Linked DNA regions of Homo sapiens: regions 1 and 3 are each linked to region 2. The links come from fine-mapping of genetic effects on gene expression. A gene starts in region 2. Each other region holds a variant in brackets. All regions are shown on one strand. Distances are from middle to middle.

Region 1 (8,183 bases), 150 kb before region 2:
TGAAGTAAAAAATTGTCTCTAGCCTCCAGTTCCGGCTCTACCTGCCACCTCACCTTTCTGAGCCTCCATAGCCCTATCTGCAAAATGGGGTAATACCATCTCTTAGAAAAGTGTTGTGAGGATTAAAAAAACACCACATACACACACAAAAACCCACTAAGCACTTATATAGTGTGGTCTTTTGTAAGGCTGGTAAATTGTAAGCACTCAATAAATGTTAGCATTTATTATCAGCTCAAACCTAGTAATATACAATAGCTACTATTTCAATGTTGATTTCACAAAGGAATCTTCTGAATAATATTTCATTATCACCAATTATCACCATCTTTAAACTTAAGCATTTTAAAAACAGCTGTAGCTCTGGTTATTGAAATAGCAATGCAAGTAGGTTTTAAAAGACAGACTGGGCCAGGCATGGTGGCTCTTGCCTATAATCCCAGCACTTTGGGAGACCCAAGCAGGAGGATTGCTTGAGGCCAGGAGTTCAAGACAGAGAGAGCCTCCATCTCTACAAAAAAAATTTTAAAAGCCGAGCATGATGGTGCGCACCTGTAGTCCTAGATACTAGGGAGGCTTAGGCAGGAGGATTGCTTGAGCTCAGTGGGGATTGTTTGAGGCTACAGTGAACTATGATCATGCCACTGAACTTCAGCCTGGGAGACAGAGTGAGACCCTGTCTCTTAAAAAATATTTAAATACGTAAATAAATAAGGACAGATTAGAAGCAAGTTTGAGCCATTAGCTCAAATGCTCTGGCCACTCCCCATCCCCATCTTTGCAAAGTCTTTTTACAGCTGTGCTAATATCTTTAATTGGGTTACAATCAGCCCAGTTCCAGAAGCTTTTCTTTCATAGGGTTTCCTGCATTTGTCGGTTTCAATTCATTCCGAGTGGATTTTACGGTTTAACCTTCGGAGGGCAAGCCGATTTCCTTCATTCCGAGAGTTTGGGTATGTGTGCATGTGTGTTTTGGGGGCAATTCACCATAATCCCTAAGGGCTGACGACAGCCAGGATGCTTCTAGAATGAATTATCAGTAAATGCGATACTCTAGATCCCCCAAGGGCGATTCCAGACACCAGGAGAGGCTTGGGGCGGGGCTTCTCTCACAGAGGCTGGAGGCGGAGTTTGTACGCTGATTGGCAGCTAAGGCCACTGTACACAGCAGCCCCCACCGGCTGATCCTACAGGGCACTTCAAGGGCAAAGCTTTGCTTTAAACTCCTGGCACCACCTATGCAGACTCAGCAGTCGGGAGGATTGACTTACTCAGGCTCCCAGTTACAAGAGGAAAACTTCTTTCCTCTTAGAGTTTAGCTCCAGGCTATAACCTTGAAAAAGCCTCCAACTGCTAAGGCGAATCTTTATTAGTCATCTTTGCTATGTGACTCGGCCTCCTGGCATGGGTGGGGTGAATGAAAGCAGGGCTTCAGGACCCTGCAGAGCGGAAGGGGGAAAATGCTGATATTTGTTAAGCATCCATTAAGTGCCAGGCACTGTTTCATCTAGTCCATATAACAACCTCTAGAAATGAGCATTATTATCCCCATTTCTAAGGTGAGAAAACTAAGGCTCGGCGTGAATGTCCCTCCCCTAACCGTAATCTCTCCTGCTGCACACATTTATGACTCCACACCACACTAATCTGTTTACGTGCTTGTTTTCTCTCCTCAAATGTGGACTCCCTGAGGGATGAAACTCTTGTTTCCGTCACCTCTGCACTCTCTTGCACAGAGCATAGCGCCTAATACATCAGTAAAATGCCAGATGAATGGCAGAACAAATGAAAAGCAGTTGAAACCTGCAAGGTCACACAACTGGTAGTCAAAGGACTTGAAGTGGAAGCCAGATCTGCCTGATCCCAAGGCCCACGACCCTAGTGCAGAGCAGGGTGGGCATGCTCACCAGGGGCCCAGCAGCAGCCAGAGGCCCCTTGTTTCTCAGAGTCTCTTGTTTTAGCTTTAAAATGCATGGAAGCAGCCAACCTAGAAAGGAGAAATTCTATTGATTTCCCGTTTTTTTTTTTCTTGGTATAATGACATCTTTTAAGCACAAAAATTCAGAATTACCCCCATTATCTTTTGGTTAACATGATATTATAAATAGATTTATTCCATTACCTTGGGCACCCCACTCCTCCCCCGACCACTGTAAGAAACGTTGGTTCGAAAAGTCCAGAATGAACTCCAAAGATTGAGCATGCTAGGTAAATTAGGATCTGGGATCTTAAGAGGGGCTGGCTAATACTAACACAGGCAAGAGGTTTTGACCTTAGGATGTCTCCTGTTCCTCCACAGGTTGTTGCCATAGCCTGAGGATGTACACATCCCCAACTTGGCTACTTTTGACCTTGGATTAATAATGTAATTCTGGCCTTCTAGGATCTCAGAGATCATTTTGCCCTATGTGGAGCCAGAAAACTTCAGAGCTGGATGAACTAAAGAGGTGCTCCAAACTAACCCTTCATATAGAGAGAACACTTCAGCCCAGGGCAGGGCAATGGCTTGCTCCAGGTCACACAGTGGGACTGTAGTACTATAGAATTGTTAATCAAACTCAGGTTCCCAGGATTTCTACCAAACTTGGAGCACATGCACTCCAGGCCCCGGGGATGAATCACTAGCACGTGGGTCTTGTCATAACTATTTTCACTAATTTGTCACAGAGATGTATAGTTTTCAGAGCACATTCACATACAAGCATTCACTTGACCCTTTATTGCAACGTTGTGAGACAGGGATTATTGTTTTGTTTCGTTTTGTTTTAAGAGACAAGGTCCCACTATCTTGCCTGGGCTGGTCTCAAACTCCTAAGCTCAAGCGATCTTCCCATCTCAGCCTTCCAAAGTGCTAGGATTACAGGTGTGAGCTACCATGGCTGGCCTATTGTTTTGTTTTACAGATGGGGAAACTAAGACCTAAAGTTATTAAGTAACTTTCCCAAGAGACAGAGTCAGTATTGAATCTCGGTTCTTCTGACTCTAGGTGGCCCAGAGGTGAGCACACCCACTGATAAGTCAGAGGCAGAGAGGAACAGGAGTGGCAAGGTAGAGTCTCATCTCTTGCTTTTCCCTCTTTTACCTTTTTAAAAAAGCACCTGGACTCGGGTCCCCTCTCAGACCACCATACCTTTCCCAGATGTCTCTGAGGGAATGAAGGGTAGAGCAGAGCAAGGTGTAAGAGAAGCAGAGGGTACTCAAGGGTCCAAGCCATGGTCATGGCCGGCCCAAGGGCCGCCCCAAGGCAGAAGTGGCAGACGGAAGGCCACAGTAAGTCAAATTCTGAGAAACAACGGCCAGCCCGTAGGACAGAAAAAAGGTAGAGAGAATCCCCATGGGCATATGGTAGGAGGGATGCAGTTAAAACAAGAGCCATCACATGAACAGAAGCACGTAGGAAGAGAATAGCAGGAAGGAGGCGGGTCTGCATAGTTTAGAGAGTCCCTTTGGGGAAGGAATGGATTAAAAAAAGAAAAGTGGTCAGATTCTAAAGGACCTCAGAATACCAGACTGAGAGATTTGAATTTCATCATTTTGGCCAAAGGCAACTGTTAGAGGTTTGTGGGCAGGAA[A/G]AGGGCAGACTGACAAGCATTAGCTCTGATTATGCAATCAGCACCAGTGTTTAGACCTCAAAACAGTGACCCCTTTAATCTGACAGTCTGCTTTGGTATAATTTGTTAAAAATGACAAAATGTCTCATTTTGCTGCGGTTCATTTTGACCTTTTTTAATATTAGAAAGTTAATTTCAGAAGGGAAATAAATATATTAGTGTTGTCACAGTCATAAAAAGATGAATTCTCTTCTGTCAAGCTATTTCTTTGAATGAATCCATCATGCTGTGCAATGGTTGCTTTCTAACACTCAGCATCTTCTCAGCTCCCCCCTCCCTCCTTTTCTCCCTCCTTTCTTCCTTTCTTTCTTCTCTCTCCCCATCCCTCACTCCTTCCATCTGCCAACACATCTACTATGATGTGCTTTGGGGGTAGAGAGATAAAAGAAATGGTCCCTGCTCTGAAGCAACACTCACTCTAGTGGGAAAGGCAGAAAAGAAACCAGCCGTTGGAGGTGTGTCTAAATGCCACAAGAGGAAAGAACGAAGGACCCAGGGAGCATGTAGAGGAGCTGTTTATCCTGCAGAGGCAAAGGCCTCCTTTAAAGTTGGAAACTATGCCCTGTAGTAGGACTTGGGTTATGACTTTTGTGAAGGAGAAAAGACACTAAGGATTCTGAAGCTTTGGGTTCTACTCCCATCTCTGGTAATTAGACAGTAATTACTAGGGACAGAGCACCCAGACCATGGTAAGGATTTCACACACATTATCTCACTTAATGCTCACACCTTTATCAAAGTAGTCTTATTTTTCCCATTTTTTCAAAAGAGGAATATGAAGCTCGGGGGATGAAGTAATTTGGCCCAATTGGGTTGTAAACCTTATACATAGAGTTGACTCCAGAATCAGGGTGGCTTGCAGTGCGCTGTGCTTCATCTCCAGCTAGCTATAGAGAATTGTACTTTACTATTATGAACTATTCTGTACCAATTATGCTTACTGGTTGTATAACCTTAGAAAACCCTGTTCTTTTCTCACTCTGGATCTCAGTTTCTCATTTGTTCAATGGAGAGGTTATACGAGCTCTGAACGTCTCTGGTTGTAGAGGCCTCCTGGAATCTGAGGGCATGGTGTAACCTGGTGCGTCTCAAATTTTAATGCACAGGAAACACTTGGATATCTTATTAAAATTCAAGTTCTGATCAGTAGGTCTGGAGTGAGGTTCTGAGAATCTGCATTTCTGACAAGCTGCCAGGGCATGCTGATATTGCCAGTTCAAGTACCCTGCTATGATTTGAACGTATGTGCCCCTCCAAAATCCATATGCTGAAACTGAATCCCCAGTGCAATTGTATTGAGAGGTGGGCCCTTTAGGAGGTGATCAGATCATGAGGGCCCCTCCCTCATGGATGGGGTCAGTGCTTTATAAAAGGGAACTAGCAAGAACATTTTGCCCTTTCACCCTTTCATTACTTCCACCATGTGAGAACACACCTTTCAAGGCCCCATCATGGAAGCAAATGCCAGGTCCTCACCAGACACTGAACTGCTGGTGCCTTGATCTTGGACTTCCCACCTCAAGAACTGTGAGAAATAAATTTATATTATTTATAAATCACCCAGCCTCAGGTATTTTATCATAGCAGCACAAACAAACTGAGACCCCATTTTGAGTAGCAACGGTGTAACCGATGGCAGAAGCAAACTTTTGGGTCCAGGGTAGAACTACCGAGGATGTAAGATTTAAGATTGTTGAAATAAATGCAAATAGGAAAAGCAATCTTACTCAGATCTGGTCAGCAAATAGAGTTCTGGGTTCATTTTCTTACCTGGAAATTTTACTTTCTTGGGTTTAAAAGCAGTGATTCTCTTAAGAGATTAAAGGGAAGAAAACTGAACTTTTAAGGTTTTGAAGAACTTTTTATACTGAGATCACATCTGTTTTAATTCAAGTTTCAATCTGGTGTTTCCCCTGTAGCTCAGATTTCTATCTCAGGCAGGTGCAACAACTACTCTCCTATGGGGAGGAGGCTATCTCCTTTCCCTCCCTACATCTTGGTAAGATGCAGCTTCCTTCCCAAGATGCACCAGCACAGCCACAACTTTTTAAAGCATAATTGCCTAAAGGCTTTCAGGGCTTCCCAGTCATACAGGGGTAAGACTTCCCAGTTTGGTATTCAAAGATTCAGACTCATCTCTCTACATTCCTTTGCTTAAAACCTTTACTTTTATCCTAATATGCCTGTTCCTCTCCCAGAAGGACTTCTGGCCTGCCCACATTCATATTGCCACTCCTGTTGCATTCCTACCCATCCCTGCACTTGCACCCCCACAAACTCCCCTCTGATTGGACTTTTACCCCTCCCCTCTTATTCTCTAGCCCTCAGAATTCCATATGGCCTTCAGATGTTCATGCCATTGCTTCCAGAAAGCCTTCTGTCATTGTCACAGCTGTAAATGAGCACATAGTATAGGCTTATACATTTTGTATATCATTTATTTTCTAAGAATAACCATATCATCCCCATTTTATATATGAACAATAAGAGACATTGGGAATCCAACCTAGATCTATTGAACTCTGAAGTCTTGATTTCTTCTCTCCTTCTTTACCCTCCCCCCATACTTTGTTTGTATGTCTCTTGTATTATAATCACATATTTCTTTGTTTTAGAGTTATTTTTCTCTTTTGCTGAGAGGAGAATGTAGTTTTGTTGGGTTAAGAAGGTGAGGTAGATAGAACAACCTAAAAGACTGCTGGATGTTAAAAGTGAGGGGGAAGGCTGCAAGGGTAATGCAAACTGGGGGATAAGGGGCATATTTGCCCACATCTTTTCAATGGAAAAGCGACAAGAGAGCCCTTTGCAGTGTGCAGGCACCTTCTCTAGATTATCCTCATTTGATTCTCAAGATCACCTTCTTTGGGCTACACTTTGATGTATTCCTATGATCAGCCTCAATACTACTGGGTCCTATTCAAGTTAGTTAGGATTAATGAGTTAGATGCAATCAAATCACAGACCCTTGGAGCCAGAAGGAAAGTGAGAGATTCTTGCTCAGCCTCTTCATTTTACAAATGAGAAAACTTATGCTAGAAGGAAAATGACTTCCCCAAGGTCATTGGTGATTTGGTGGCAGAGATTCATTTGGCATTTATTACCTTTTTTTTCCTTAGCATCTTCCATTTCTGAACAAGGTGCTTCTGGGTGAATGTGTATTTTAGTTGATGCCAACAGTTCTGTGTGCAGCAGAAGAATAAGAAATAAACCTCAATTCTTTGACTCACCCTTGTTTCTCTGTCAACAAAGTGGGTTTCTACCAGTTTTCTTTTCATCAGAGGGTGACCTTGGAAATCTAAACCTTTGACACCTGGTTTTTCCTCTTGTGCCTTATGCTTTCCAACTCTTTCTCTAATTATTTCTTATGTATTTAGTAGTTAAAATTAAAATGCCCACTAACACAGCCATTTATCTCATGGCCTTAACTCATAATTATTGCACAACTGGAGGCAACCTTGAGAATGGGAAAAATGAAGAATACATTTCTGCACGAAACTGTGCTGTATTATTGTGGTTAGCTTTCGCTGTGAATACAACCCCAATATCTTGGTAGGTTACCACAGCAAACATTTATTTCATGTCCATGCTCTATAAGGGCTGTAAGTGAGCCAGCCACAGCTCTGCTGGCTGTGCTCAGCTGTATGTATCCCTCATCTAGGGCCCAGGCTAAAGGTGTCACCCCTATCTGGGACCTGCTGTTTTATGGCAGAGAACAGGAACACAATCTCATTTAAAGCTTCCACACAGAGATGGCAAATATCATGACTGCTCACATTCCGTTAGCCAAAGCGTGTCCTCAAGCCAAGGCCAAAGTCAGTGAGATGGTGGGTATATATACTCTTCTTAGATTCTTAGGCAAACAAAAATGACAATAGGAGATTTCTTATTACAGGGAGGGAAGAATAGTTAGGAACAATGATCTAATCAACCAAAATTACTTTATTGCTGAATCAGAATATGAGTTTAGGGAAATCATTTGCCCTCGTTGGACCCCAGTTTCTGATTGTTTAAAATGAGAAACTTTGCCTCTTTAGGGAAGCAAATTAATATTCTGAAAAAATTAGATATATCTAAGTTCAAATTCCAGTTGCACCACAGACTAGCTGTGTGATCTTAGGTAAGTTATTTAACCTCTCTCATTTCTTCATTTTTCTTCAAAAATTCAAACTATAGTTTTAAAAAACACACATACCTCTTAAAGTGTCTCATAATCTCTCTTTTTTTTTTGAGGCGGAGTATTGCTCTCTCGCCCAGGCTGGAGTCCAATGGTGCAATCTCGGTTCACTGCAACCTCCGCCTCCTTAGTTCAAGAAATTCTCCTGCCTCAGCCTCCCGAGTAGCTGGGACTACAGGTGCCCACCACCTTGCCTGCTTAATTTTTGTATTTTTAGTAGAGATGGGGTTTTGCCACGTTGGTCAGGCTGGTCTTGAACTCCTGACCTCAGGTGATCCGCCCGCCTTGGCCTCCCAAAGTGCTGGGATTACAGGCGTGAGCCATCGTGCCTGGCCCTCATTTTGTTTTTAACCCTAGAAATATCTTTTAGGGGAAAAAAAAGTCTCTTGTGAGAAAAC
Region 2 (8,183 bases):
TACAGCCATGGCTGGAGCAGCTGGGACGCAGGGCACCAAGTCCCTAGGCTGCACACAGCATGGGGACCCTGGGCCTAGCGCATGACACCATTTTCTCCTAGGCCTCGGGGCCTGTGATGGGAGAGGCTGCCGTGAAGCCCTCTGACATGGCCTGGAGACATTTTTTCCATGGTCTGGGGGATTAACATTTGGCTCCCCATTACTTGTGCAAATTTCTGCAGCCAACTTGAATTTCTCCTCAGAAAATGGGTTTTCCATTTCTATCGCATTATCAGGCTGCAAATTTTCCAAACTTTTATGCTATTCTTCCCTTATAATACTGAATGCCTTTAACAGCACCCAAGTCACATCTTGAATGATTTGTTGCTTAGAATTTTTTTCTGCCAGATACCCTAAATCACCTCTCTCAAGTTCAAAGTTCCACAAATGTCTAGGGCAGGGGCCAAATGCCCCCAGTCTCTTTGCTAAAACATAACAAGAGTCACTTTTGCTTCAGTTGCCAATAAGTTCCTCATCTCCACCTAAGACCACTTCAGCCTGGACCTTATTGTCCATGTGGCTATCAGGCTTTTGGCCAAAGCCATTCAACAAGTCCCTAGGAAGTTCCAAAGTTTCCCACATTTTCCTGTCTTCTGAGCCCTCCAAATTGTTCCAACCTCTCCCTGTTACCCAGTTCCAAAGTCGCTTCCACATTTTCGGATATCTTTTCAGCAACACCCACTCTACTGATACCAATTTACTGTATTAGCTCATTTTCATGTTGCTGATAAAGACACACCCAAGACTGGAAAGGAAAAAAGGTTTAATTGGACTTGCAGTTCCACAGGGAGGGGAGGCCTCGGAATCATGCCAGGAGGCAAAAGGCACTTCTTACATGTGGCAGAAAGAGAAAACAAGAAGATACAAAAGCGGAAACCCCTGATAAAACCATCAGATCTTGTGAGACTTATTCACTACCATGAGAACAGTATGGGGGAAACCACCCCCAAGACTCAAATTATTTCCCACCAGGTCCCTCCCACAACACATGGGAATTATGGGAGTACAATTCAAGATGAGATTTGGGTGGGGACACAGCCAAACCATATCACTGGGTAAGCAGAGGTTGCTGTGGGCCGAGATTGTGCTAGTGCACTCCAGAGCCTGGGTGACGGGTAAAACCCTGTCAAAAACAAAACAAAACAAAAAACACCCAAAAAACCCCAAAACAAAACAAAATCCTGGGCAAAGTTCATAAAAATACCATAAAGAGAGAAGATTTTTGTAGTGTCTTAGAATTAATTTATTAACTAACCAGAATACACAAAATTCCTAAAAAAAAGACAAAAATCCTGATAGAATATGGGGTAAAGCATTATGAGCAGATGATTTTTAGTAAAGATAGAAAATCTTATAAGCATATACAGACATGCTCAGACTCATCAGTAATCTGAAAAATTCAATAGTGAGATAACACTTTACATCTGTTATGTTGGGGGAAAACAAGAACCCTTGATAATGCCAAGCCTGGGAAGAATGTGGGGCCATAGTAACCTTCGAATATTGGGAGCATAGACTGGTATGGCATTCTGGATAGCAACTTGGAATTATATGGTCAAACTGAGAATACTCATACTCCATGACAACAATTTATCTTCTGTTCATCACAGACTATATGTAAAATTAAAATACAAACACAAAGTGGAAAGGATATTTGCAACATATAGAGTAGACATATAATTATTATCCAGAGTATATAAAGAACTGAGAGAGAGACCAACAGAAAAGGGGGCAAGATAACTACTTGGCAGTTCAATAAGAGATAATGGAAAGGCTAACAAAACCAAAGGTACTCAACCTCAACAGTACCCAGAGATTCAAGATAAAACCACAATGAAATACCTAAAATACACACATCCAAATATACAAAAGTTAAAAATCCAAACACAAATGTTGCTGATGATGTGGAAAAATAAGAACTCTTATACATAAGCACCAGAAACATAAATAGGTACACTACTTTGGAAAATGGTGTGGTCTTACTTTTTAAAGACCCACATGTGCAAAACCCTAATACCCAGCTAACCCACTCCTACGCTAGTACATGTGCATTAATAGACACAGACTTGTACTACAATGTTCACAACATTGTTAATAATAGCTAAAAATGAAAACAGTGTAAGTGATCATTGATAGTAGGAAGGATAAATCAATCTATATTGGAATACTGTCCAGCAATGGAAAAAACTTCAGCTACACAGCATCACCGGTGGCATAATATTAAGTGGGAGAAGCAAATCACAGAAGAATACATACAGTATTAATACCATTTATATACTATCAATACCGGAAAACATTAAACAATATCTTGTTTAGAAATGCATACATGAATGGCAAAAGGAAGAGAATTATTGTACAAAAGTCAGGGTAGTGGTTACTCCAGGGCGAGAAAGGCAATGTAATCGTTGGGGGCATTTTTCAGGTGCTGGTAATGTTTTATTTCTTAACCGGGTGCTAGTTGTACAGGTACTGTTCACATTATTATTAAGATAAACGTGTTTTATACACTTCTGCATGTATAATGTATTTTGCAATACAAATGATTTTTAACATGATTGGATTGGGCAATCTCTTAGGTTCTTTTTATCTTTGATGGTCTATTGTCAGGCCCTTCACAGCTGGACTTATTGTTGGCACCTCATTGACAGTTCCACTTAAGCAATATGCATTAAGACGCATACATGGGTGAATTAGACAGGAAAATTTGAAGGGAAAAGGGAACGCGCTAACAAAGGGAATCACAGAATAGGAGACTAGGAGTATGGACCATCTGATGCAAGCCCCTCTCCTCAGGGAGGCAACTGGGGTTTAACTTGAGAGCTCCTGGGTTCCAGTCCTGGTTCCGACTTTGATTTGGGCAAGTCTCTTCCCTAATTCCCAGTATCCTTATGCTGGCTTTGTAAACCGTGCCGTGAAATTTAAATAGGAGGACTAACAATAATTATTATTCTTTTACAATTGGGAAAACTGAGGCCACAGTGGGTCGCCACTAGCCCAAGGTGCCATCACCACGTTGTAACTCAGGGGTTCCCTCCGACGGCCTTACAGGAACTCCAACTCCCTGAACAGAGCACCGTCCCATTATACAAACAGCAGCTCCCTTTCGTCCGGCTTTGGGCGCAGTTTGACGTCACAGAAGAGCTGCCTTGCCTCACCCCGCCCCTTCGGAAGCCCCGCCCCCTGCCCGACTCCGCCTCGCTCGGCGTTCGTCAAGCTCCGCCTCCAGCGCTCGTCCCAGCGCGGGTAGCCCTGGAGTGCCCCGCGCGGCCTCTCTTCCGGCCCCGCCCCTCCTGGCTGCCATGACAACGAGTCTGCGCCCCGCGCTCAGCTGCTTCTCCGGCGGAACCCAGGCTGGACCGCGGGCCCCGGCCTGGGGGCCACTGCTGCCACCGCCGCCGCCACCTCGTCTCCTCCCCGTCCCCGCCCAGCCCCAGGTCTCCCCGCCTCACTCGGGCCCGTGGCCGGGGTCACTCCCCGCCGCCCCTCCCCGCACGGATGCCGAAGGTGAAGGCGCTGCAGTGCGCCCTGGCGCTGGAGATCAGCTCAGTGAGTACCGGTAGCGCCTCCCACCCCCGGGCATTGGCTCAGGGACTCCCTCAGTCACCTCCGAGAGCCCGGAACCACCCCCAAACCTCCTTCACCCTCCGAATCATCCCTAGGGAGCGTCGACCTCACGCCCCTTCGGTCCTGCCCCATCTTGTTCTCAGAAGCGCTCTCCCACTCCGGCCACGCAGAGGCCTGACCCCTGCTCCGCTATGCTGGCTTCAACCCGACTTCCAACTTGCGCGCTTTCAGATCGTTCCCAAATCACTTCAGAGTTCTTTCCTCGCTCCTAACTTTCCAGTGAGAGAGAGTGTATGTGCGCGGCGCGGGGGCTTTTCATTCCTCTTTCGGGCTCCAGTTCTCTTAGAGAATTATTGCCCCCGCCTTTCCCAAGTCTGGGGGTGGGCGTCGCATTTCCTCCCGAATCCCTGCAGGCACACCATTTCAGACCAGTTTCAAACCCGCATTAATGAAGGGGCCTTTCTTTATTCTGTCTTCGAAGGAGAATCTTCACATCCAACAACTGAAATGTGTCATTGCGCAAAGTACCTTGCCTTCCCTCCCAGGGCCTTACAGGAAAAACCCAACTCCTCAGAAATCACTTCAGGCCCCTCCCGTCCCCAGACCCTTCCGACTTTGTGCCAGCCATTGCAAGAAAGGCCCAGTCATTTTTATGAGGGAAACACCTCCTTCTCCAACCTTGCAACCCCACCCCTTCACTCTCCAGACTTGCTCAAGAGGATGCTTTCCTCCATCCTCCTGTGGAAGTCCAGCTGGGGCAGAGAACCCCACTCATCCAGTGAAGGGGCTGGACCTCTCCATGCTAGGAGAAAACTCTATTCCCCTTGTTGATCTCAGAAGACTTCCAAGGGTTTTGAACTTCTTCCCCTGCATTCTTTAGAGAACCCTCTCATTCCCCTGTTTAGAGGAATACTCCCGCTTGTCTGTTCTGGAGGAAATCTCCACAAGACCCTTTCCACACCCCGTTTTAGTCCTGCAGGCACAGACCTGTACGGAGTTTGGAACCAAAATTCACCATTCGGTCTCTTCGCTCCTTCTTACTCAGTAAGTCTTCTTATGTATATTGCCTTCTGTTTGATCTCCTAGGAAAACTTGGGGGTTGAGAGTGCTGAAATATTACCATTACTCTCCTGGGTGCTGCAGCCAGGAGCCCTCTGCATTTCCTTCCTGTACACCCTACTGGCCAGGCTCCACTTAACCCGTGCTTGCAGCTTCCCGCCTTTCCTGGCTGGCCTTCGTCACGTTAGAATGAGGTTGCTGCAGCACAGAACTTAAACCCCTAGGAAAATCACAGGACTGTTTTAGGTCTTTTGTTAGGTCTTAAAGAAGGCAAGTGTGCGTGGGGCAGAGTGTGAGGCAGTGGTGGTGAAGTAGAAATTTTCTTGGACTCTCCCTTTATCTTCAAGCCTGCAGAGATTTTTCTCGGAAACTCCATAGCCCTAGCTTTGCTTGTTTTCCTCCCAAAGCTGCCATTTTTGACAACTTTTTGTAAAGTAAAATTAGTTTAGCAAGAAGAATGCACGAAACTTTCTCGATCCCTTGGCCCAGGACACAAGTTAGTGAAACTCCTTCAGAGTTCAGCCTTAATAGATTTTGTTACTGGCTTCTTCCTCCTCCTGCCAACTAATGGTGTTTAGCAGTCTGGTGAGCGCAGCTGCCTGACTGGCTGGCTGCAGCTTCCCTAACGTTGCCAATACAAACTTTCTAAGAGGAAGTACTCTGTTGTAACTGATTACTGCTTGAAGGAGTCGGAGGAATAGCTACATTTCTCCTGAGTATTAGTTGTATTGCAGAAAAGTGAATGACTGTGTAATTCACTGTATAACGGAGCTTTGTTACTTATCAGAGCTAAAGAAAACTATGATGGTGGAAATAATATTTTTCCCCAACAAACATTTAAGTCACAGAATTTTATAGTTCCGAGACATCTTAGATGGAAATCATTGGATTCAATCCCTTTTTACAGCCAAGAAAATCGATGCTCAGCATGGCTATTATTTATCTAGGATTGCACAACTGTTTAGAAGCAGATGTGCAAAATGTTCCCGAATTTTTGAACAACAAAAGCCTTTTAAAATGGCTCTGATGCTCAGAAGGAGCAAACAAACAACGCCCCTGACCGCCCCCCCCACAAAAAAAACCCCACTAGCAGACGTAAAAGTTAAACATGTTTGATTGATTGATTAATTTGGCTTTGATTGAATAGAAAGGTTATATGACCCTAGATATTTTTAACATCTTCATTTTGATTTTAGTTCCTTTCTTGTCTATTTCCTTTTTACATTTACATGGTTCAAGTTCAAGACTATAACATGATATACTCAGAGAAGTGTTGCTTCCAGGCTCAAAACTATTTCCCACCTATACTCATCTGCTTTAACCATTTTCACTGGTTTTGATATAAACAGATACACAAACTCTCTCTCACATACCACACAACATATATATATATATATATATATATATAAATAGATATTTGTTTTTATGAAATAGGTAGCGTATAAACTATTCTGTACCTTTGCTTTTCTTCGTTCAGTATGTCCTGGAGATCACTCTGTATCTATTAAAACTGGCATCTTTCTCCCCAACTTTTTAAATGAAATTTTTCAAACATACAGAGTACTTAGAAGAATAGTTCAATGAATAACTGTAACCCATGACCATGTACATTAATTTGATTTGTCTATATGTATGTGTATGTTTATGTATAAATTTTTTATTTTTTTGCTAAAAATTGAAAATAAATTGACATAATGATACTCCACCTGTAAGTACTTCAGCATGTGTCTTCTAAAAATAAGGATATTAGCTGGGTATGATGACAGGCACCTGTAGTTCCAGCTACTCAGGGGACTGAGGCAGGAGGATTACCTGAGCCCAGGAGTTTGAAGCTGTAGTATGCTGTGAGCACACCTGTGAGTAGCCCTGCACTCCAGCCTGGGCAACACAGTGAGACCCTGTCTCTTAAATAAATACATACGTAAATAAAATTAAAAAATAAGGAGATTGTTCTGTATAACCCCAACACCATTATTACACCTAAGATAATTGGTGAGAAATTCTTAATATTTAGTTCATATTCAAGTTTTTCTGGTTGTCCCAAACATGAGTTCCATAGTTAACTTTTTCAAACCGGGATCCAGTCAAGGTTTATATATTACCTTTAATCATTTGATTGATAGGTCTTTGTAGTTCATTTTAATATAGAGCAGTTCTATTTTTTTTTTATTCCCACAATGTTCCTTTTTTTTCCTCAGTTGGTTTTGGTCAATTCATACACTCATGTCACCATCACCCAGATCAAGATTTGGAACACTTCCATCACCCCTCGCAATTCCCTTGTTCCCCTTTCAGGTCCATTCCAGACAGAACTGCTTTCCAGAGAGAAATAAGTATAGGAGATGATGGAAATGTTAATTAGCTTGAATTAATCATTTCACAGTGTACATACCTGTAGCAAAACATCACTTTGTACAGTGTAAATATATGTAAGTTTTGACAAAAAAGAATGGATAAATATATTGTAGTATACACATACAATAGAATACTACTCCACAATTCAAAGGTACTACTGATAGAACCAACAACATGGATGAATCTCAAGAACATGCTGAGCAAAAGAAGTCAGATACTAAATATCACATACTATGTGGCTCCAATGTGAAGTTTAAGTACTGGCAAAGTAATCCATAGTGATAGAAATCGGAATAGTGTACACACACACCCCCTCACACACACACCTACCACATTTTCTTTATCCATTCATTCGTTGATGGACACTTAGGTTGCTTCCATATCATGAGTATGGTGAATAATGCAGCAATGAATATGAGAGTGCAGATCTCTTCCATATACTAATTTCCTTTGGATACATACCCAGAAGTGAGATTGCTGGATTATATGGTAGTTCTATTTTTTAATTATTTGAGGAAATTTTTCTTTTTTTAAATTATTTGAGGAAATATGCTTTTTGTAATGGCTCTTCTAATTTACATTTCTACCAACGGTGTACAAGGGTTCCCCTTTCTCCACATTCTTTCCAACACTTACAATTTTTTGAATTTATTATAGTAGTCGTTCTAACATGTGCGAGGGCATATCTTATTATATTTTTGATTTGCATTTCCCTGATGATTAGAGATGGTAAGCACCTTTTCATACACCTGTTGGCCATTTGAGATATCTAGTCAGACCTCTTGCCCATTTTTAAAATTAGGTTTTTTGTTTTCTTGCTATTGAGTTTGGGTCCTTACATATTTTGGATATTAACCGCTTATCAGATTTTCTCCATTCTGTATGTTTACTGTTAGTGGTTTCCTTTGCTGTGTAGAAGCTTTTTACTCTGATGCTATCCATTCTCTTGTTGATGGTTGTTTGGGTTGTTGCCAGGTTATGGTTATTATTGGATAATACTATTATGAATATTCATTCTTGTAAAAATCTTTTTGTGGACATTACCTTTTGAACATACTTGGCTCGGTTACAGAATAGTTCATGTTGTATTATTGCCTGATTTTTTCTTCTTTTTGTGGTGACATTCAGTTTTTTCCCAATTACTATAAACTGGAAACTAGGTGTTA
Region 3 (8,183 bases), 280 kb after region 2:
TGAACTAGGAGCTGTAAGTTGTGGAGAAGTCACTAGGAGATATATGGTGGTGGTGGGGCAGGGAATAAAACTAGTGGAAGATAAGGGTTATTTTAGTATGTTTGTTTGTACAGATCCATTTCGGCATTGATTCCCAGTCTCTGGTGATAAGGGTATTCTTCTCTTCCTGGCACAGGGAGGGAATCTTTCTCATGGAAAATTCTGTGGCTTGTTTTCAGTAGAAAAGGAGCCGTTAGATGACTCTTCCTGCATCTGCTGTTTCTCAAGTGTCATCAGCTGGAAATAATTAATATGTCAAAGCGGCATATTTTGGCGTGGCTTGTCCTTAGCTCTTTCACCTGTCGTATCTCATGTGACTTTAAACCGTGTTAAACCATGGTGCTGTGGAATAGCCTCGTGAAAGCGGAATAGAGCTGTACTGAAAGGTTGCTGTTTTCCTATTATTGATGGGGATAGCCACGGATTCTTCTCTTGGGAGTCAAGCAACCCACACAGACCGTGTGCCCCCAACTGCCTTTGGGCATATGCCATCAGGGAGAATCCCTGGTGGTGCAAGAATTCCAGTGCTGGAATGGGAAGGTTTGCTTAATTCCTGGATTTAGTATTCAGAAGCTGACTTGCTCATAGATACTGCACACACTTCCCAATATCAGAGTTTTGTTCTTTAATAAAAGTAATATTTTGATCTCCTGCTTTACTATATAGTTTTATTTTCTCAATTAATTCAAAACTTAGACTGAAAGAAAAGGGGAGCTATAATTTTTGCCCCTTTGGAGCTCCAACAAAATATACAAATTTAAAAATAAATGATGGGACAGAAATACACTGGAAACCTGTAAATCTATTAAAATTATGTTTTTGAAGACCAACAATAAAACAGGTTCATAATGTATTCTGGAGTGTAAAAAAAGAGAATAGAATTATAGTGTTTGTCAAGCATTCCAAAAATGTGTTCCCTGTATCAATATTATCAGCACTACGTGGGAACTTGTTAGCAAGTTCTTGCACTCCACCTAGAGCTACTGAGTCAGACACTCTGGAGTGTTGCCAGTGGTTTGTCTTTAAAAAAACCCTGCAGGTAATTCTCATGAACGGTAAAGTTTTGGAATTCTTCAATTTTTAGCACACACACAATACTGGATGGAAATATACCAAAATGTTAATACTAATATTATTTGAAAGGTGAGGCTACAGTTGTGTGCATGATTCAGTATAAGTTAATATTAAAATAAATTATTTCATTTCCAGAGGTTTTTGGTGGATTCCTCGGCTTACCTCCCATCAATAAATCCAAAAGAGAACAGTAATTCTTCTTGTCATTTTGTAAGTTATCACCATTTATTTATCAAGCCCAAGCAAGATTACATATATTTGTGGTTTATGAGAGTAGGTCATTTTTCCATTTAAGACTTTTTTTTTTGTTTTGAAATAATTATACATTCACAGGAAATTGCAAAGATACAACTGAAAGCAATTGACTTTGGTATCCTAAACCTTTCTATAACTACTTATCAATTTCACGAGGGTTTTGTTTGTTCGTTTTGAGATTCCTTGGGATTTTCTGTAGAAAGAATCATATCATCTACAAAGGCAGTTTTTTTTTCTTTGACTTCAAGTTTTTTTTTTTTTAACTTCTATTTTAGGTGCCGGTTTGTTATGTAGGTAAACTCGTGTAACAGGGGTTTGTTGTACAGATTATTTCATCACCCAGGTATTAAACCTAGTACACATATAGTTATCTTTTCTGCTCCTCTTCCTCCTCCCCACCCTTCACCCTCGAACAGACCCCAGTGTCTGTTGTTCCCTTCTTTGTGTTCATGAGTTTTCATCATTTAACTTCCACTTATAAGTGAGCACATTCGATATTATTTTTTCTGTTTCTGTGTTAGTTTGCTAAGGATAATAGCCCCAGCTCCCACAACAGCTCATGTTCCCACAAAGCACATGATCTTGTTCTTTTTTATGACTGCATAGCATTCCATGGTATATACGTACCACATTTTCTTCATCCAATCTGTCATTGATGGGCATTTAGGTTGATTCCACGTCTTTGCTGTTGTGAACAGTGCTGCAATGAACATTTGCATGCATGTATCTTTATGGTAGAATGATTCATATTCCTCCATGTATATATCTAGTAATGAGACTGCTGGGTCAGATGGTAGTTCTGTTTCAGCTCTTTGAGAAATCACCATACTGCTTTCCACATTGGTTGAACTAATTTGCATTCCCACCAACAATGTATAAGTATTCCCTTTTCCCCACTACCTCTCTAGCACCTATTATTTTTTGACCTTTATAGCCATTCTGACTGGTGTAAGATGGTATCTCACTGTGGTTTTGCTTTGCACTTCTCTAATGATCAGTGATATTGAGCTTCTTTTTTCATAAGCTTGTTGGCTATGTGTGTTTGTCATCTTTTGAAAAATGTCTGTTTATGTCTTTTGCTTACTTTTTAATGGGGTTGCTTATTTTTTTTCTTGTAAATTTGTTTAAGCTCCTTATAGATGCAGGATATTAGACCTTTGTTGGATGCATAGTTTGCAGATATTTTCTCCTCTTCTGTAGGCTATTTATTCTATTGATAGTTTCTTTTGCTGTGCAGAAACTCTTAAGTTTAATTAGATCCCATTTGTTAATGTCTGCTTTTGTTGTGATTGCTTTTGGTGTCTTTGTCATAAAATCTTTGCCTGTTCCTTTTTTTTTTTTTTTTTTTTCCAAGGCAGAAGAATTTTTCTTAGTGCAGAACAAAATGAAAAGTCTCCCATGTCTACTTCTTTCTACACAGACACGGCAACCATCCGATTTCTCAATCTTTTCCCCACCTTTCCCGCCTTTCTATTCCACAAAGCCGCCATTGTCATCCTGGCCCGTTCTCAATGAGCTGTTGGGCACACCTCCCAGACGGGGTGGTGGCCGGGCAGAGGGGCTCCTCACTTCCCAGTAGGGGCTGCCGGGCAGAGGCGCCCCTCACCTCCCGGACGGGGTGGCTGGCCGGGCAGGGGGCTGACCCCCCCACCTCCCTCCAGGACAGGGCGGCTGGCCGGGCAGAGGGGCTCCTCACTTCCCAGTAGGGGCGGCCGGGCAGAGGCGCCCCTCACCTCCCAGACAGGGTGGCTGGCCGGGCGGGGGGCTGACCCCCCCACCTCCCTCCCGGACGGGGCGGCTGGCCGGGCGGGGGGCTGACCCCCCCACCTCCCTCCCCGACGGGGCGGCTGGCTGGGCAGAGGGGCTCCTCACTTCCCAGTAGGGGCGGCCGGGCAGAGGCACCCCTCACCTCCCGGACGGGGCGGCTGGCTGGGCGGGGGGGCTGACCCCCCACACCTCCCTCCCGGACGGGGCGGCTGGCCGGGCGGGGGGCTGACCCCCCCCACCTCCCTCCCAGACGGGGTGGCTGCCGGGCGGAGACGCTCCTCAGTTCCCAGATGGGGTGGCTGCCGGGCGGAGACGCTCCTCACTTCCCAGATGGGGTGGCCCCCGGGCAGAGGGGCTCCTCACTTCTCAGACGGGGTGGTTGCCAGGCAGAGGGTCTCCTCACTTCTCAGACGGGGCGGCCGGGCAGAGACGCTCCTCACCTCCCAGACGGGGTCGCGGCCGGGCAGAGGCGCTCCTCACATCCCAGATGGGGCGGCGGGGCAGAGGCGCTCCCCACATCTCAGACGATGGGCGGCCGGGCAGAGACGCTCCTCACCTCCTAGATGTGATGGCGGCCGGGAAGAGGCGCTCCTCACTTCCTAGATGGGATGGCGGCCGGGCGGAGACGCTCCTCACTTTCCAGACTAGGCAGCCAGGCAGAGGGGCTCCTCACATCCCAGACGATGGGCGGCCAGGCAGAGACACTCCTCACTTCCCAGACGGGGTGGTGGCCGGGCAGAGGCTGCAATCTCGGCACTTTGGGAGGCCAAGGCAGGCGGCTGGGAGGTGTAGGTTGTAGCGAGCCGAGATCACGCCACTGCACTCCAGCCTGGGCACCATTGAGCACTGAGTGAATGAGACTCCGTCTGCAATCGCGGCACCTCGAGAGGCCGAGGCTGGCGGATCACTCGCGGTTAGGGGCTGGAGACCAGCCCGGCCAACACAGCGAAACCCCGTCTCCACCAAAACCAGTCAGGCGTGGCGGCGTGTGCCTGCAATGGCAGGCACTCGGCAGGCTGAGGCAGGAGAATCAGGCAGGGAGGTTGCAGTGAGCCGAGATGGCAGCAGTACTGTCCAGCTTCGGCTCCGCATGAGAGGGAGACCGTGGAAAGAGAGGGAGACCGTGGGGAGAGGGAGAGGGACAGGGAGAGGGAGAGGGAGAGGGAGAGGGAGAGGTGAATCTCTGCCCGTTCCTATTTCGAGGATGGTATCACCTATGTTGTCTTCCAGAATTTTTATAGTTTGAGCCTTACATTTAAGTCTGCCAGAATTGTCAAGTGACCATCAGATGATAGTCATGGGGGATGTTAAATTTTCTCTCTAAAGTAGTAATTGGTCACCACTCGACTGGCGGGGGAAAAATGAAAAATACCTCAGATGAGCAGGTGCACAACTTCAGTAAACACACTGCACATGTGGCCACTTCCAAGTGCTAGCAGGTCACTGCACATACAGACAGTCTACCCCAAGGGAAGAATTGGGGTAGAAGAGATGAAAAACCTGGAAGCATGCCAACAGATAAAGCCTCAAGTCAAAGGTCAAACAGCACACTTGGATATCTCCAATCACCTGCTTGGCCCTCTTCCAAATGTACTTTACTTGCTTTCACTGCTGCTCCAATAATTTTTCATAAACTTTCACTCCTGCTCTGGTCTTTCATTCTGCCTATAATCCTTGGGTGAATTATTTCCTTCAAGGAGGCAAGAATCGAGTTGCTGCTGACTTGTATGTCTTTGCCACTGCTAACATACTTCAGTGCCATGACTCACATACGTTCCCTAGTGGTAAGATACCTCTATGCCTTTCCTTCTTGGGCTGGAGGTATTCAACCTCCTTATGTGGTTTCCTTCTCCCCTTTTGCTCTCCTGCTTACTAAGCAACGCCCAGAATGATTCCTCCCCTGATTCTTCCCTTGGGGC[T/A]AACAGTGGCTCTGCTCCCCACAGCTGATCTCTCATCTCACACTGATGAGTGGCTTGTGGAGGTGGAAAAGACCTTGAAGTCCACATCAAACAGATCTGAGCCACTAATAGCCCTTCTGGACAGGAGGCTCGAGAGAGTGGTAGGGCTAAAGCCTAGGATGGTGCCATGTCTGGGGCTTCCTCTGCGTTTGAAATGAAAATGAGGTCTTTCCGCAAAACCCACACTGCCTACTCTCCTGTTTTCTCGGTGTGTATTCTGAAATGGCCTTGCACACCCACTGGACAGTCTGTCTCAAAGGCAAGTATGTCTCTTCTCTGCTTTCACTTCACATGCCATAAGACTTCCTTCTCTGCCTTAAACACACACTCCCTATTATTCATACACCTGTGGCTCTTGCTGCATTTGTGCAGCTGCAAGGAAACAGGCTCCCCTGTGGATGTCTTTTGGCTTATTGCTGGGACAGACAGTAATTAGAACCATGGCTCTGCCAGCTTCTTATGACTTACCCTATGTTTTTTGTCCCTGTTATGCTCCATAGCCAAGTTTTTCAGTGGCTCTTGAAGCAATTTGTTCACCTGCAGAGGGCTTCCCTCTATGGCCCTTTAAGGACCCCATCTACTTGCTTTTTATGAGTTAGCACCCATTTGGTAGGAGGGAAAATTCTTCCTTTGCATTTGTGAGCCCTTATCCCAAGCCCCACATCTTGCAGAATTTCTCATTTATGTCAAAAGGGCAAATAAATGTTGCCATCTCAAATCCAAGGGCTGTCGTTTTTGCAAGCACATGAAGCCTTTCCTTGAGTATCCCCCTTCTTCCTCCAGCTTCCTCCTATAGTAATAGGATGGTCCTGTCTGCTCAAGTATTTTTTCTGCACATTACCCTGGGAGGATGAGGAACCCAAAATACAAAATTTCCTCCATTCCTCTAATCATCTTCATGCCCTTCTTAGTATACCTCAAGACTTTTAAGGTCATATTTGAAGGGAGGTAAGTCCAGCCCTCTTGCAGAAATTAGCTAAAAAATAGGCTTCTCATATATTTAAAAAGCATGGGGAAATGTGATTATAAGAAAAGAGATAATCATTTTGTTGCCAGAATGCCCCAAGCTAGAGTCACTATAAGGTCATGGAGACAAGGATATAGGCCAGCCCAAGGCTGCAGATGCAAGAGACAGACGTGCCCATAGGACAGAGAGATGAAGGCTGACCCCAGGGCAGATTACCAATAGAACAGAGAGGAAGGCAAGGTTAGGGGTACCCATAAGACTGGTTAATTTCAGAACCCTGGAAATGAATAGGATCCCTGTGTTTACCCTAGTATCTCCTCTGTTCTCAAGAGGGTAATTGTGATGAGATGAGACCAAGACCAAGGTTAAGGGTACCTGGTGAGACTGGTTCATTCCAGAACCCTATGGACAAATGGGCGATGACCTGTTCAGGAAAGGATAATAGGGAAATAAGAGGAGACACATTCTTTCCTTTTTTATTTTCTGTTCCCTTTTCACAGATGGGTAATTGCATCTCTATACCACAGGACATGCCCCTCAGATCCATCCTTAACAAAGGGGAGGCAATTACAAAAGTCAGCTTAGAACCCAGTGCCTCATGCAGGAAAACCTCAAATTAGCCTCCTCAGTCTTTTCTAATTGACAGTGGAATAAGGAGGACAGGGGTAAGGAAAAGGGAAAATGCAAGAACAAGAGGCAGGCTCAACTATTGGCTGCTCTACAAGCCCTGCAGCCTCCCCCCAGGTTGTCGTCAGAATATACTCCCAGGTTCCTGCCATCAGTGTGGGAAGCCAGGGCACTGGAAGGCAAACTGTCCCAATAGGATAAATGGGAAAAAGCCCTGCACAGCTTGCTTCCTCTGTCACAAGCTTGGCCACTGGTAATGGGACTTCCCTGGGTTCCAAAGGGCCCCTGGGACAGAATCCCAACCCATCATGGTGGTCTTGAGCTGAAGAGGCTCACTACTCTGATTGGCTTACAAATGAGACATCATCATCAACAAGATGAAGCCAAGGGCAACTCTGGAGTTGAAAAGTAAAATTATAAATCCCTCTTAGGTCCAAGAGCTGCCTACTTCACTAATCTCCTTCTCTGAACAACTCTCCCACAAATCCTGTTGGGTAATGGGGGCAAATGACACCTCCTCTCTCCAAAAGAAAAGATCCACACCCCTTTATATAACTTAAGGGACCAATTACAATTCTTCCACGAGTCCCTGGTAATGTCTAAATACTCAATACCTCTTTGGGGCAAAAATATACTTTCCAAAATGAGTGCCTGCTTAATATTTACTCAACCTCTAAATTCACCTTTCTTTCTAATAGCCCTATTTCTCCTGGGGTAAGCTACAAAAATATTTAACCAATAAGTTCAACCTGGACAGTCTTACCTTAGTGGTTTAGAATAGTCCATACTTATTTGGACAAGCCCTAGGGAAATCTAACCAAGCAATCTCTTGAGGGAGGATAACTTATACATACATAGATAACCTCTTTATCTACTCCCCTGTCACAAGACTCACACAGCAACACATAGTACAAACATAACTTCCCAACAAAGGGAAAATGACTTTTGTCTAATTCAGAAGTTATAAAGAGGTATTTTTCTTGGTAAGGAAGGTTATAAAGAAAATATTTTGTCTAAAAAAGGATATTGTATGGTAAATTCTTGTCCTTAAGTAAAATGACTAGTCATTTAAAAAGAGGGATGTTTAGGATATGTCAGAAAGCTTAAGCATGTTGTAGATGGTCTATGTAAGTCATGAAAAGAATTGTGAAAAGAAATTTATAAAAATGCACAATTTTACAGGCTATTAGGCCTAATAAATCCTTCATAAACTGCTACTGTGACTCTTAACTGTACAATTTGCCTGTTTTAAAGCCATTAAATTATATGTAAGGACTGGGGACAAAAGGAGTTAGCCATGCCCCTTACCTATGCTGGAACAAGTCAAACTTCTATTCTGTTTTGACATTTCTACTTGGTTTAAAACCCAAGGAGCCTTCTCTATTTGTGGCCAATCCTTTCACCAATGCCTCCTCACTAACTGGTCTAGGACTTGTATCACAGGCTATCTATCCCCTGACATCTACATAGCCCCTGGCAATCTCTCTCTTCCAGTA

What was found. PIP is the estimated chance that this variant, and not a neighbour inherited with it, causes the effect.
Region 1: its variant is fine-mapped to the expression of SPATA6 in whole blood (TOPMed, PIP 0.96).
Region 3: its variant is fine-mapped to the expression of SPATA6 in whole blood (INTERVAL, PIP 0.99).

The regions. Positions count from the first base shown.
Region 1 is chr1:48,612,789-48,620,971 of GRCh38, reverse strand. All of the region lies in intron 9 of AGBL4 (AGBL carboxypeptidase 4), which reads left to right. Among named protein-coding and RNA genes, the nearest start is that of SPATA6, 140 kb to the right of the region's middle. The variant A/G (reference allele first, on the strand shown) is at 3,573.
Region 2 is chr1:48,467,360-48,475,542 of GRCh38, reverse strand. SPATA6 (spermatogenesis associated 6) reads left to right here and starts at 3,339. Exons shown (of 13, transcript NM_019073.4): 1 at 3,339-3,585. The coding sequence starts at 3,535. LOC124904175 (a long non-coding RNA gene) reads right to left here and starts at 5,173. Exons shown (of 2, transcript XR_007066074.1): 1 at 4,591-5,173. RefSeq lists an enhancer at 3,008-3,057 and a silencer at 3,268-3,657.
Region 3 is chr1:48,187,839-48,196,021 of GRCh38, reverse strand. No RefSeq gene overlaps it. Among named protein-coding and RNA genes, the nearest start is that of SLC5A9, 31 kb to the left of the region's middle. The variant T/A (reference allele first, on the strand shown) is at 5,055.